Homo sapiens: one gene and its partner. The protein of the gene in region 1 interacts with the protein of each later gene in a biochemical or structural test. Each region holds a gene or a part of one and is shown in the gene's direction. Other genes may lie near its edges.

Region 1 (8,111 bases):
CGCAACCTCCGCCTCTCAGGCTCAAGTGATTTCCCTGCCTCAGCCTCCCAAGTAGCTGGAATTAGTGGTGCGTGCCACCATGCCCGGCTAATTTTTGTGTTTTTAGTAGAGACCGGGTTTCACCATTTTGACCAGGCTGGTCTCGAACTCCTGACCTCAGGTGATCCACCTGCCTCGGCCTCCCAAAGTACTAGGGTTACAGGTGTGAGCCACCATGCCCGCCCTTGGTCAGATTTTTAACTGACTCACTGCACAGCTGATTGGAAGCTCTGTTTGAGTGGGCAGGTTTTGTCAGCTTGTGAGCATATTTTTAGATTCACTGGTTAGTCAGCCAGCTCAACTCCTAGATTCACTACAATTTTAGATTTACTAGGATTTTAGATTCACTGGGTAGTCAGTTCCCCAAGTCCTGAGCTCAAGCGATGCACCTGCCTTGGCCTCCCACAGTGCTGGGATTACAGGCATGAGCCACCATGCCTGGCCCAGAATTCTTGATAGTGAACTTTGTTCTTATCCGAAGTTAACATCTAAAGGGATGTAACTGGCAATTAAAACATTCCAGATAATAGGGGTTTTGTTTGCAAGGGGAATTATAATCACTTCTAAAACTTGGTGAATTTTCTTTCAATAGAATCAAATGAACTCTCCCATAAGGTTATTAATAGTTTTCAAGGGAAATAAAAAATCAGTAACCTGTAGTTCTAGGTACTCAGGATGCTAAGGCAGGAGGATCACTTTAGCCCAGAAATTTGAGACCAGCCTAGGCAACGTAACGAAACCCCATTTCTTTAAAAAGAAAAAAGTAGATCATTTAGCAATATTTGCATTGGAAAATTTCTAAATAGGAACAGATTCAAAATTGTTTGTAGGCTGGGCGCGGTGGCTCACGCCTGTAATCCCAGCACTTTGGGGGGCCGAGGCGGGCGGATCATGAGGTCAGGAGATCGAGACCATCCTGGCTAACAGGGTGAAACCCCGTCTCTACTAAAAATAAAAAATTAGCCGGGCGTGCGGGCGCCTGTAGTCCCAGCTACTTGGGAGGCTGAGGCAGGAGAATGGTGTGAACCTGGGAGGCGGAGCTTGCAGTGAGCCAAGATCCTGCCACTGCACTCCAGCCTAGGCGACAGAGTGAGACTCCGTCTCAAAAAAAAAATAAAATTGTTTGTAAAGCCTCTTTTGAAGAGAAATAGTGTGCCAGTTTATAAAGGCACACATAAGACTGTACAACCTAATGAAGCCAAGGCAGTCTTTGGAGATTAGTACAGAGTTTTGTTATCTTGCTCATCTAATAAATTTTATGCTTTTTAGTGGCGAGTAAGAAAAGAAGCTATGATGGGTCTGGCTCAGCTTTATAAGAAATACTGTCTTCATGGTGAAGCAGGAAAGGAAGCTGCAGAGAAAGTCAGCTGGATAAAGGACAAACTTCTGCATATTTATTATCAGAACAGCATTGACGACAAGTGAGTTTAATATGTTGGTAGAATGGTTGAGTGTAAAACTACTTTTTACTTAAAAAATGTCTATTTAATATTTTAGTAATTTCTTATTTTTATGTATTTACTTCATAAATAAAATTAAGTTTATTCAACTTGATTAATCATTTATTTCTAAGTTTAGAGATAGCTTTTTACATATTTTTATGTACTGTGTTTAAACAAGACTGTCCACGATTATAAGGTAGCCTTATAATATGAAATAGGCATGAACTTTGGAGTTAGAGACCAAATGTTCACTCTGCCCTTTATTAGATGTGTATTCTTACATAGGTTCATTAAGGTCTTGTGCGCTTCAGTTTTATATAAAAAGGAAAAATAATAGTGCCTTTCCCACAGGATTATCATGTAGATTAAATAAAATAATGAATATAAAGCATCCTAGCCCAATGTGTGGCAAGAGAGCACTATTGAGTTAACTGCTAGTTACTTTCCTTTTTACACCACTACCAATAGAGGAATTACTAAGTTGTTTTCATTTTCTGAATATTACTTATAATTCTATATTGGATCGTACAAATGATACTTGGTGTGTGCAGAATAGTTTCCATTGTTTTGTTTAATTAAACTAACTTCTCTGGCATCACTGGATATGTATTTCATTTGTTAATTAAGAGATCTTGTATATTCTTAATCCAGTGATATTAAATAATAGAAGCAAGAAGATACAAGCAATAGGTACTAGCAAGAAGGATATTCCAATATTGGTAAGGAATTTAGATCATGGAGAGAACAATAATCAGATGTACACAGGAAAAACTACATTTTCTGGAAGTAATATGAAGGGGGGTCCCCCTGTTTTTAACTATGTGACAACATGGAAAATGGGCTGAACTGTAATCAGAGGAAATTAATGAGTTTCTTGAGAATTAGCTCTACCGCGGATCATAGCTTTATATGTTGCGTTAATGAATTTGCTTTTGTTCTAGACTGCTGAAGAAGAATAGGCGGAACAGCCTAGCACCCTGTGTTTAGGAATAACATTTAAACCTTCTAGAACAAATGTTTCATACTGACAAATTATAAAGCCACAGACAGTAACCGTGTCTCTAAAGTTAAACTGTACTGAAAGCTTTCCAAGAAGGAAGTCATTATAAACTGATATCTTCCATTGTATGTGCACACATAGCTATTATCTTGATATGGTATCCTGGCATAAGATGGTTAAAACTTAAAATGTTGGCTGGGTGTGGTGCCTCATGCCCGTCGTAATCCCAGCACTTCAGGACGCTAAGGCAGGCGGATTGCCTGAGCTCAGGAGTTCCAGATCAGCCTTGGCAACATAGGGACACCTTGTCTCTACAAAAAATATAAAAATTAGCTGGGCATGGTGGCACGCGCCTGTAGTCCTAGCTACTGGAGAGGCTGAGGTGGGAGAATCGCTTGAACCTGCGAGACAGAGGTTGCATTGAGCCGAGTTTGCACCACTGTACTCCAGCCTGGGTGACAGAGCAAGACCCTGTCTCCAAAAAAAAAAAAAAAAATTGCTTCTTAAAAATGGAATAATTGTGTCACTTAGGTTTTTTTTGTTGTTGTTATTTCCTAGACTGTTGGTAGAGAAAATCTTTGCTCAGTATCTTGTCCCCCACAACCTGGAAACAGAAGAGAGAATGAAATGCTTATATTACTTATATGCTAGTTTGGATCCAAATGCTGTAAAGTAAGTTACTTTTCAAATAACTGCTGTATTTTCTAAGGATTTCGTAAAATTACTTCATCTTATCTAATTAGTTGTTATTGATTGGATTGTTGCTGCTTCTATAGTTGAATCAAGAACCTCAGGTAAATATTTATAGACAAAATGTTACGATTTATGTTCAGGTTATTCTTATATGTGTAGGCTTGTTTGGCAGCCAGGTCAGTAGTAGGATGGTTTCAGGTGTTCAAATAAATGACCACGTCAAAATACCTGTGGCTAGTGTCTAAAACTACTGGTGCTTTATCCTTCCAGACTAAATATTAAGCCTAATAACTGAATACTGATTCTTTGTTGGGTGAACATATTCAGATCTTCTCTGTGTAAGATGGCCATATGATTAATGGTCCAACTGGATTATTTTCAGACTGAAAGGGATCACTATTGATATTTTTACTTAAATAGCATAATCAAACTGTCCCAGGCCAACCAGGATGTGTGGTCATTTCACTTTAATAGATTTTTTTTTTAAAGTAAATGTTACAATATATACATATATTATGTTGTACACCATCGTATATGTAATTTTTGTCAAAAATACACAAAGTAAATGAGTGATGTCATTAAGAATTCTGATCTGAAGATGGAAGGATCTTTTCAGCCTAGAAGCTTGACCATCCTGGGCAATGTAGTGAGATTCTGTCTTAAAAAAGAGAGAGAATTTTGAGTTAGGAATTTGACTGTTTGCCATTGTGGCTTCTTCAAGTGTTCCTGCATTATTAGATTAAGACTGCATTTTTAGGCCGGACGTGGAGGCTAACCCCTGTAATCCCAGCATTTTGGGAGGCCAGGGCAGGCAGATAATTTGAGGTTAGGAGTTCGAGACCAGCCTGGCCAACATGGTGAAACCCCATCTCTACTAAAAATACAAAAATATTAGTTGGGCATGGTGGTGCACGCCTGTAATCCCAGCTACTAGGGAGGCTGAGGCCGGAGAATTGCTTGAACCCAGGAGGCAGATGTTGCAGTGAGCCGAGATTATCCCATTGTACTGCAGCCTGGGCAACAGAGTGAGACTTGTCTCAAAAAAAAAAAAAAAAAAAAGAAAGAAAAGAAAAAAAGACTGTCATTTTGGCAGAAATTCTATTACGATAGTGTTGTATCATGGTTACTAATCCCTTTCCTTGCTTAAGGTTTTGATGTTTGTTTACATTTCAAAATATCTGACAAAGAGTGTTTAGAGATTAGTAATTCTCAGAGGTCATCTGGGCACCTGGAAATATGGATGGGATTTCTGAGAGAAGAAAATCTGTGTTCCTGGAGAGAGAAAAGTTTAGAATAAACACAATAATGTAAATTTGGCATCTTGAATCTGCATCATTTTTGATACTTCATTTTTCAAAATAGTCTATAGTGCTTCATGTATATGCCTTAGCCTTTTTAATAAGGCCTTCATGATTTGATCTGTGTCTGTGGAATGCTCCAGCTTCCTTATGCTCCACACACATGCCTTGTGCTCCAAGCGTATACATGTTTTTCAGTTTGTTTTATGTCCCTTGCACTTTGAGATTTTCTTTCCTTGTACCAAAACTTTCTAGCTACCTGTATTTAGTACATCTTTCAATCCCTGTATTACTTATTAATCTTTCTAAACCTCTCAAATATTTTCTCTCATAAGAAGGCTTATATTTACCATTTGTACTAAATTGTTTTAAATCCTAATAAATATATTTCCCGGTATTTAAACTTTTAGGTAGATGTAGAAGAATGGTGTATATACAGCATGCAACAAGAAAGGTTGTAAAGCTGAATAATTTCCAGTATTGTTATGTAATGTGTGTTTTCATATTCATAACTTTACAGAGCTCTCAACGAAATGTGGAAGTGTCAGAACATGCTTCGGAGCCATGTACGCGAACTATTGGATTTGCACAAGCAGCCTACAGTAGGTTCATGATTTGTTTAAATTCATAGTTTATTATAGTCACTGTTCAGATTTTCTGTAGTTCTACGTAATGAAGCAGGGAAAAAGTATCTCAGTTGTTTTATTTTCCAAATGTCAGTTAAATATAATTTCTGTAGTTGTCCAAGCTAAATTTCCATTTAAAATAAATATAACAAACTCTTATTTTCTAGTGTGAGCAAAGAAATGGTGTTTTCTAGTTTATATAAAGTTTTCAGACACTAAGAGTTTATAGTTAATCAATTTTCAAATAATTAGAATTAAATTTTGAGATAAAATTACATTAAACATCATATTTCTTTTTCACTGCATGATTCATGGTCTCTCAGTGTAGAGTGAATATCAGATATCAATCCTATAAATATGCCAATGGCAAACTAAAAAAGAAATGCCATTAAATTTTTGCAAGGTTGGGGAAAAAAACTTTACATTTTTACGTGTGTTCACTAGAATAGGTGTTCTTAACCAGGGGACCATATAAACAGACCCCTCAAGGACACATGGATGCTGGAACAGGGGCGGGCAAACTTTTTTTTTTTTTTTTTTTTTTTTTTTTAATACACAGGATCTTACTCTGTTGCCCAGGCTGTCGCATAGTGGCATGATCACAGCTCACTGCAGCCTCGATGTCACTGGGCTGAGGTGATCCTCCCACCTCAGCCTTCTGAATAGCTGGGACTACGGGTGTGCTCCACCATACCCAGCTAGGTTTTGTATGTTTTTTGTAGAGGTGAGTTTTCACCATGTTTCCCAGGCTGGTCTCAAAATCTTGGGCTCATGCAGTCTGCCTGCCTAGGCCTCCCAAATTGCTAGGATTACAGGTGTGAGATACTGCACCTAGCCTAGCAAACTTTGAAAATAAATCAACAGATAGCAAAAACATATTTTGCAAGGCATAGAGTCTGTGGTCAGATATTCAACCCTGCCTTTGCAAAATTAGTCATACACGATAAATAAATGAATGGACATGACTATATTCCATCGAAACTACTAACAAAAACAGGTAGCTCATGGGGGCATAGTTTTCTAACTTTTGAACTAAATTATTCAAATTTAGTATAAATGAAAACTAATAAGTAATGTTTTATGGGATACAGGAAAGGGAAGTACGTTTTAGAAAGGAGGTTTTCCTGAAGGTATTTAAGTAACGGGCCACAAAGTAGCTAACAGAACTCTATTGCAGAAAAAAAAGTTTCTTCTCTATATTTTTAGTTAATTTTTTGTGGCATGTAGTTTCATAGTAATTCTGATATGATAAGTTTATATGTTGATTGCTTCATTGATCTTTTTTCAATCTTCTGGCAATGTAACTTTCCTGTGAAAGTTATATACTTGTGGGTTTTTAAGTACCTTCCTCCCAACATCTCCTTTCCTTCTATTTGTCTTAATAGTTGCTACTATGTAATTCTTTGTTGTTAGTTTAGCGTATATATGTGGTAAAACCATTTTCCATTGAGCAGACTGTGATGAACTTTATTTTTTAACGTCATGAAAAATGTACAGTAATGAGTATTGATTTTTGTTAGGGAAATTTGTTAACACATATGACTAGTTGTTCTTTTGTTTCTGTTTTAAATTTCAGTCAGAGGCTAACTGTTCTGCCATGTTTGGAAAACTGATGACCATAGCAAGTGAGTATGTTTATTTACTCACTAAACATGTAGTAAACGTAAATGCAGACAAAGTATTTACCCAGTGGGACTACTGATTTAATGTTAAGTAAAAGAAAATAATCTTTATCTTAATTTTGTTTCTAAGAACCAGCTAGGCTGATTTTCTTTTAGTGGCTCCGCAATATTTTGATGGCACCTGTTTTTAGCTTAGTAGAATAGTTTTTTTTTTTTCCTTCTCTAATATTGATTCTCTTTTAATTTTATAGAGAATTTGCCTGACCCCGGGAAAGCACAAGATTTTGTGAAGAAATTTAACCAGGTTCTCGGCGATGATGAGAAACTTCGGTCTCAGTTGGAGTTATTAATTAGCCCAACCTGTTCTTGCAAACAAGCAGATATTTGTGTGGTTAGTAAATCATACTTCACACTTTTTCTCTAGCTTTACTTACAGAAATATGTATTTTATTAAAGCCTGTTTTACATACAGTGATTTGTGTAAATGTAACAATATTGTGAGCTCTGAATTACTTTGGAGTATATCTATTGTCAAGTTAATTCTCTATTTACCATTCACTCTCAGCCACATTCCAGGAAAATAACTAAAGAACTAAGCCAGGGAGATTGGTCTTAGGAATTTTACAAGATAAAGTACTTTGAACTTAGTAGACATTCATTGAGTAATGATAAGTATTTTCTGAATGCTTGTGTACATGTGCATTTTCTTCTTTCATGTATTAGAATGGAAATAATCGTCAATAAATTAGTAGTAGTAACATTGCCATATATCTGGTTTCATTTACAGATAAAGTAAATTCCTATCTAGACTTTTGTCTTCATTCTTCTCTTGAACTCATTTAAAACCAATATTCTTAAAGCTATCAGGAGGGAAAACTTATGCATTCATTTATTCAGCTTTTTTTTTTTTTTTCCTGAGATAGTCTTGCTTTTGTCACCCAGGCTGGAGTTCAGTGGCACAATCATAGTTCACTACAGCGTTAAAGTCCTGTGCTCATGTGATCCTATACCCCAGCCTTCTGAATAGCTAGAACTATTGGCACACGCATCCACACCCAGCTAAGTTTTTAAATTTTTTGGAGGCCATGCACATTGGCTCACACCTGTAATCCCAGCACCTTGGGAGTCCAAGGCGTGTGGATCACCTGAGGTTGGGAGTTCGAGACCAGCCTAGCCAACTTGGTGAAACCCCATCTCTACTAAAAATACAGAAATTTGCCAGGTGTGGTGGTACATGCCTGTAATCTGAGCTACTCAAGAGGCTGAGACAGGAGAATTGCTTGAACTCGGGAGGTGGAGGTTGTAGTGAGCCGAGATCATGCCACTGCACACCAGCCTGAGTGACAGAATGAGACTGTCTCAAGAAAAGGAAAAAATAAAAATTTTTGTCT
Region 2 (7,645 bases), on another chromosome or scaffold:
TTTTTGATTTTCCATGGAAAGTTGATTGCTGTATGATACTTTTACATATATTGTACACACAATCACTTCCACTGAGTGAAATTAGCCTGTGACATACCACTGTTTTGTGCTTTACATACACAGTTCACTTAGGAGCATGTGGAATTACTGTACTGTTTTGGAATGATGTAAAGAGCTCAGTCAGTGTTCCCTTTTCTCTCTTTCCCTGTTTCTTCCTCTCCCTGCCATATGTGTATGTTAGCCATATACAGATATTACTTATTTTAATTTTTAATTAGATGTGTCTTCAATATCTCTCCTCCCATAATAAACCCTATATTAATCTTGTAAGACACTGAAATAAAAGTCAAGAAAAAGTTCTAATTGGACTACTTCCCTTTAGATTGCTTATTAGTATTAAAATGGTAAAACATCATCAAAAGCTTTAAAACTAATAGTATTACTAAATTGCCTTGTTCAACAGCATAACCAAAAGTTCCTTTAATATGACCTTTTAATATAAATTGTTCAATTATTCTGTATGCTGTTATGCTTCAAGGACTTTTGAGATGAATAGACACATCAGTTATTCCATTTGTTTATCATATTCTTTATTAGGTAGGTAGGCTATATATTTCTGTTTTCTTACGAATGTGTTAGACTTAAACCTAGCAGCACATCATCACATAACAATTAATAATAACATTTAATACTTACAAAGCACTTTTTTTTTTTTTTTTTTAAAGACAGTCTCGCTTTGTCGCCCAGGCTGGAGTGCAGTGGCGCAATCTCGGCTCACTGCAACCTCCACCTCCCGGGTTCAACTGATTCTCCCGCCTCAGCCTCCTGAGTAGCTGGTACTGCAGTTACTCACCACCATGCCTGGCTAATTTTTGTATTTTTAGTAGAGACGGGGTTTCATCCTGTTGGCCAGGCTGGTCTCAAACTCCTGACCTCAGTCGATCCGCCTGCCTTGGCCTCCCAAAGTGCTGGGATTACAGGCGTGAGCCACCACACCCGACAGCACATATTCTTTCAGGCACTCTTACAGTGTTTTAATTTTTTGAGACAGAGTCTCGCTCTGTCGCCCAGGCTGAAGTGCAATGGCACCATCTCAGATCACTGCAACCTCCGACTCCCGGGTTCTAGCAATTCTCCTCCCTCAGCCTCCCAAGTAGCTGGGACTGCAGGTGCCCACCACCGTGCCCCGCTAATTTTTTGTATTTTTAGTAGAGACGGGGTTTCACCGTGTTAACCAGGATGGTCTCAATCTCCTGACCTCGTGATCCGCCCGCCTCAGCCTCCCAAAGTGCTGGGATTACAGGCGTAAGCCACCGTGCCCGGCCTAGTCAGTGCTTTTTAAAAATAATTTCTCTTTTTGCTTCTTTAATTTCTTTAATTTTATTTTTTGTAGAGACAGGATCTTGCTTTCTTGCCCAGGCTGTTGTGAACTCCTGGCTTCAAGTGATCTGCTTCCTGCCTCGGCCTAGAGGCGTGCTGCAATTACTGGCATGAGCCACTGTGCCTAGCCCAATCAATGCTTTTTAAAAAGAAGTAAAATGCTTGAGCTTTGAGGCACTCATTCTTGCCAAAAGGCTGTTGTTACCAGAGCCTGGGCTCTGAGTATGCTTGAGGTACTAAAGGTAGTTCAAATTAGGGATCCATAACTAGCAGACACACAAGTTACATAGCTGGTCTTTGAAAAGAATGGAAGGAATAGAGAGGTTGGTTTTAAAATTTATGTTCAGTCCACTTTATGTGTTGTGTCTCAGGAAGCCAGATCAAGTCATTGCATGAGTGCATAAATTGTTTCAGATTGCTAATGCATCATCATGTTATGCAAACCTGGCATTTATGAATGATGGGTTTGTGTACACAATCCAAATGAGAATTTTTCCACTTTATTAGAGATAATATATTAAAAGCTAACGATTAGTTCACACTAATGCTTAATGCTAATTATGTTGCTTCAGTGCAGCTAGTAAGGGGATATAGTTAAGTTTTTTAATGTAGATTTTTTGACGGTCTTGAAGTATGATTTTCCACTTGTCTTCTTATTTTTGTTGTACTGAAAATAAGATGTGTTTCATAAGAGAAAATCTCTAATTTGTCCAAACCATGTATTTGAAGTTCAAAACATAATTTAACGTCACTTTTGTAGAGGATAGAGAGGATGAGGTGTTACCTTTCTATTTTGTCTTTGTAATTATGCAGTTTTCTCTTGAAAGTGAGGGTTTTGTTCTTTTACTTGATTTGATTTTGTAGGTTTACTGTCATTTATTCTCAATTCGGAAATTCAGTGTTAAAACTGAAAATCCCCTGGAAGTTTAAGTAAATTGATAGGGCAGCACAATAACCTCAATTGATGTGTGAGGGACTTTACATCTTTGTCCTGCTTAGTGTAACATTTTGCTGCAGAAATCATGTATGTTATTACATGGTACTTTTTTGGATCCCACTGTGTCTTGGAATATGTGGTATATGTATTATATTTACCTTGATAAAATTTGAGAACTCTTGAGTGGTGGCACACAGCTGGCTGCAGTGGTTTGCTTTAAATGAGCGCATTGTCTGTCATAAACTGCTGGATTCCCATTGTTGGAAGATTGTGAGGCATGAATTGGTAGTAGGAAGAATAAAGTTTTGCCAAAGAACCCATTGAACTATTATTATTATCATCATTACTATTTTTTAAATTTTTTTGAGACGGAGTCTTGCTTTGTCACCCAGGTTGGTCTTGAACTCTGGGGCTCACCCAGGTTGGTCTTGAACTCCTGGACTCAAGTGATCCTCCTTCCTCACTCTCCCAAAGTGCTGGGATTACAGGCATGAGCCATCATGCCCAGCCCATGTTGAGTTAAATGTGTTGATTACTTAGTAAGCCTAGCAAGAGGTTTACCTTTTTTTTTTTTTTTTGAGACGGAGTCTCACTCTGTCACCCAGGCTGGAGTGCAGTGGCACAGTCTTAGCTCACTGCAACCTCTGCCTCCGGATTCAGGTGATTCTCCTGCCTCAGCCTCCCAAATAGCTGGGATTACAGATGCCTGCCACCATGCCCAGCTAATTTTTTTTATTTTTAGTAGAGATGGGGTTTCACTATGTTGACCAGGCTCGTCTCAAACTCCTGACCTCAAGTGATCCACCCGCCTTGGCCTCCCAAAGTGCTGGGATTGCAGGTGTGAGCCACCATGTCTGGCCTAGGTTTACTTTCAAGTGCCATCTTTTCTTGGTTAGTCATAGTTGCACAGAGCACTAATTACTGATTTTGTGACCTAGTACTACAGTGATTATATTTGCCATAGACATGAGAATGGGAATTATGGTGGGACTGTTCCCAGATAGTATCCATCCTGCTGTTTCTAGGACATGTTTATGCATATAAATTATTCTTTATGATTTTTAGTTGAGAGTCTTTTATAAGGATGGAAGCAGTTGATCTTTCTCTCATTTCTCTAGTCACCCACAAAAGCTGTATATAATGCCAGACATTGGAATCATCCAGATTCAGAAGAACTGCCTGGGCCACCAGTAGTAAAACCTCAGAGTGTCACAGTAAGTGAACTGTACTTATTTATTTTGTGTTTTTTAATAAGCTATAAATTAAGCAGTTACTCTTTTAATTCATAATTTGTAAATCTTTGACTTTTCTATTTAACAGTTTATTTTGGCTTTCTTTACTGAAACTTATTAGTTTCAGTTTAATTCATTGGAAAACTGAGGATTGTCAGTAAGATAGCAGAAATTCTAGTGCTGCTAGGTTAAACAATGAAAGCCATAAAAAATAAGGCTCTTGTTACTCATGACCCACATTTCATGGAATTTATAGTATTTAGTGTTTAAGAGCAAGATTGTCCATATTTGATGTTTGTATAAGAGCTATGTTGTGTATTACATCCTATATATATTTCTAAGTGGCTTTCAGTGCTTAATTTGCTTTTCAGAGACAAATCTCTTCCTGTATTCTAGTAATACTTTTCAATCCAAAACATTAGGAAAAAGATTCTTAGCAACTTATTTTCTCCAGAATGACTGGTAATATCATACATGATTTCTAGGTTAACAGTAAAGCTTCAGTCATCTGGAGTTATCAAGTAACTTAGTTCTTTATAACAATAAGAAATTTGGGGATAGAAGTCTTTCTAAAGTATAATGTACAGTTCCCTGTCTTCTTAAACTGATTAGACTCCTTTTGATAGTATAAAGAAATCATTTTGTATATTAGTAGTAATATAGCATGCTCCTGTTATAGCTATTTATTTTTACCCTAAACTACTTCACACTCTTGTGCTACTAAAATTCTTTTGACTCTGTCTGGTTTTTCTGTCCTGTCCCTTTCTGCTTATGAAAGCTATTTTTGCATGCAGTTGTGGTTCTTTAGTCTTTCTAATGGTACTAGAGACAAACGACAAATTGTGTGAAATAAAAAGTTTAAAAAAGACCAGAAGAAATCCTTGAGTGGTTCTTCTGTGTGCAGATATACATATGTCTTACCTGTTAGTGCATGGAATTCAAAGTATTTCTAAAGACCTTTGAGAGGCCTCCCTGCTCCCTGCTTTTTAAAAAGCTTTATTTACTTTTTTTTGAAGCTGAATTTGCCAGATAGATGAGACGTTCCTATTTTTATATATTTATTTAGAACAACTAATTTAATACCTTTATTAATAGGTGAGGCTGTCTTCAAAGGAACCAAATCAAAAAGATGATGGAGTTTTTAAGGCTCCTGCACCACCATCCAAAGTGATAAAAACTGTGACAATACCTACTCAGCCCTACCAAGATATAGTTACTGCACTGAAATGCAGACGAGAAGACAAAGAAGTAAGCAGCCATATACAGTGTTTACTGCATGTTGATAGATTTTTGTATGTAACATTTAGCCATTTAATATCTTCAACAAATATCAGTATACTGATACTCAGTTTTGAACCACAAACTTCTTTTGTCCTACCATCATCCTTGTTCTAAAAATATTTTTGTTGCCATCTAATGAACTATTTTATGCACTTATGTAAAGTACAGTGAGCCCATAGATTTAAATATGCTAGTTCCTAGTTAAAAAGGGGTGAACTTTTTTTTTCTTGGCAGTTATATACTGTTGTTCAGCACGTGAAGCACTTCAACGATGTTGTAGAATTTGGTGAAAATCAAGAGTTCACTGATGACATTGAGTACTTGTTAAGTGGCTTAAAGAGCACTCAGCCTCTAAACACACGTTGCCTTAGGTAAGATCTTATTTTTATATTTTACAATTATGTGCATGCTGTATTAAATTTTTTCAACTAGGTGTTGTCCAAAAAGCCAAACATTTTTTATTTTGTTATGATGGGGTAGTATGTATAGCCAGTGATATGTTAAAATGCTATCCATTTCTTTATAAAGAATTTGATTCTGCATGATAAGAGGGAAAGCTGGGTGATGAGAGCCTTTTTAATATAGCATAGGCTTCAGTTTTCAAGAGCTTAAAAAAAAAAAAAAATTACGCTAAAGCATCTTTTTGCCTTGTGTGGTGGCTCATACCTATAATCCCAGCATTTTGGGAAGCCAAGTTGGGAGGATCATGTGTGTCCAAGAGTTCGAGACCACCTTGGGCAACATAGTGAGACCCCATGTCTACAAAAAATAAAAAATTAATGAGTCATGGTGGCATATGCCTGTAGTTCCAGCTACTTGGGAGGCTGAGGTGGCAGGATGGCTTGAGCCCGTGATCATGCTGCTGCACTCCAGCCTGGATGATAGAGTGAGGTGAGGCCCTGTCTCCAAAAACAAGAAAGAAAAAATTACCAGAAAGAAATAAAGTAAATAATTAAAAAAAAATCTTTTAAGTTCTTTTTACCTCTGATGTTCAAGTAATAAGTTAGATTTATTTAAGCATATTGTGATCTGGACGCTTACATTTGTACCCAAATGCTCAAAAAGATGATCTTTTGTATTTCCTAATGGATTGATTGAATACTATAATTTTGATTAAATTTTTCAGTCATTTGGAGTATATCCAATCAAATATAATTAATTAATTGTGATTTTTATCAGAAGTATTAATGAAAGGCAGCTCAGATTTTAAGCTTTTAATGGTGGTAGTAGTAACGTAAGGAATGCACTAAAGACAATTACGTTATTTTTTTAAAATACAGTGTACCTAATCATGCACTAGGCATCAGTATATTTTTAATAATGTGTTTTGCCTATGGTTTTTATATTGTGATCATGTATGGGCAATGCTTTGACCCTTTTACCCCCTTCCTATTTGCTGGTTTTGGTATTACACAAACTCAAAACTAATGTACTAGCTGTTTCCAGCCCCCCTAACCTGCTCTATTTTCTTGTAGTGTTATTAGCTTGGCTACTAAATGTGCCATGCCCAGTTTTCGAATGCACCTGAGAGCACATGGGATGGTAGCAATGGTCTTTAAAACCTTGGATGATTCCCAGCACCATCAGGTATTTTTTAAGTTTCTGAGATTGAGAAGCCTTATGTTGAAAACTACTAGTCTATTTGGCTATCAAAAATATCTTCACTGAATATTCTATAAATATATCCTAATTATAGATTGAGTTCATTTTATTTGCTAAATTTGTAGTGCTTATGGCCAGAAGCTTTTGCTTAATACTTATTTTATCATGAAAACGTGAAAACATTTTTTCTTAATGTGTCATTTTATACTTTTAAAATTGTATTTTGTTATCTTAGCTAATGTAGTATATTGATACAGAATTTTGTAAGCATAATTTTCTCTATAATCAGAAAGCACTGAGAAGAATCTTTTAATATTATTTGATACTAATGAATGGAAAAAAACTGGTTTGGAAATGCAGCCCTAATTTTTTAGAAACGTTTTTGTCCAGTGTTGAATCTGGAACATGGCCTCATTGTGATAAGGAATAATTTCTTCATTTTCCTTGCCTTTGATGCTTTTGCATAATGATAAACATAACAAAAGTTATTAGGTTTAACATTTTCCAAAATTAGAAGAAAGTAACCATCATTGCTAATTATTAGCATTAGTAGTATTTTGAGATGGCCTTACTATATTTTTGTTAAAGAAATTATGTTCTAAATACAGATTAGGTGATAATTAATTTAATACTGCATCTTCTGGGCTGGGCGCGGTGGCTCATGCCTGTAATCCCAGCACTTTGGGAGGCCAAAGTGGGCAGATCATCTCAGGTCAGGAGTTTGAGATCAGCCTGGCCAACATGGTAAAATCCTGACTCTACTAAAAATACAAAAAATTAGCTGGGTGTGGTGGCAGGCACCTGTAATCCCAGCTACTTGGGAGGCTGAGGCAGGAGAATTGCTTGAACCCGGGAGGTGGAGGTTGTAGTGATCTGAGGTTGTGCCACTGCACTCCAGCCTGGGAGACAGAGCGAGACTCTGTCTCAAAAAAAAAAAAAGAAGTTAGTTTGTTGCTGGGCAAGGTGGTGTGCATTCGTAAGTCCTAGCTACTCTGGAGACTAAGGGAGGATCTCTTGAGCTCAGGAGTTCAGATCCATTTTGGGAAACCTAGTGAGACCTCATCTCTTAAAAACAAACAAAAAAGAGAATTCGTTTGCTTTGTTATGCAGTTAACAGTGAACTTAGACATTACAGTGTGATTTTTAAGGGCAGTGGATCCCCCATGGCCTTTACAATGCATCCTAATTTCCAAAAATAATTTGCTGTATAAAC

The links.
Region 2: the proteins of PDS5A (region 1) and WAPL form a complex in vitro, tested with the Homo sapiens proteins (one study listed by BioGRID).

What each region holds. Positions count from the first base shown.
Region 1 is NC_000004.12:39,897,389-39,905,499, reverse strand, and holds part of PDS5A (sister chromatid cohesion protein PDS5 homolog A), read left to right. Parts: intron 1-1,308; coding exon 1,309-1,460; intron 1,461-3,039; coding exon 3,040-3,153; intron 3,154-4,992; coding exon 4,993-5,074; intron 5,075-6,674; coding exon 6,675-6,723; intron 6,724-6,971; coding exon 6,972-7,111; coding exon of another isoform or gene 7,112-7,144; exon of another isoform or gene 7,145-7,486; intron 7,487-8,111. UniProt on the Homo sapiens protein: Probable regulator of sister chromatid cohesion in mitosis which may stabilize cohesin complex association with chromatin. May couple sister chromatid cohesion during mitosis to DNA replication.
Region 2 is NC_000010.11:86,469,764-86,477,408, reverse strand, and holds part of WAPL (wings apart-like protein homolog), read left to right. Parts: intron 1-3,435; coding exon 3,436-3,531; intron 3,532-4,644; coding exon 4,645-4,797; intron 4,798-5,064; coding exon 5,065-5,201; intron 5,202-6,305; coding exon 6,306-6,417; intron 6,418-7,645. UniProt on the Homo sapiens protein: Regulator of sister chromatid cohesion in mitosis which negatively regulates cohesin association with chromatin. Involved in both sister chromatid cohesion during interphase and sister-chromatid resolution during early stages of mitosis.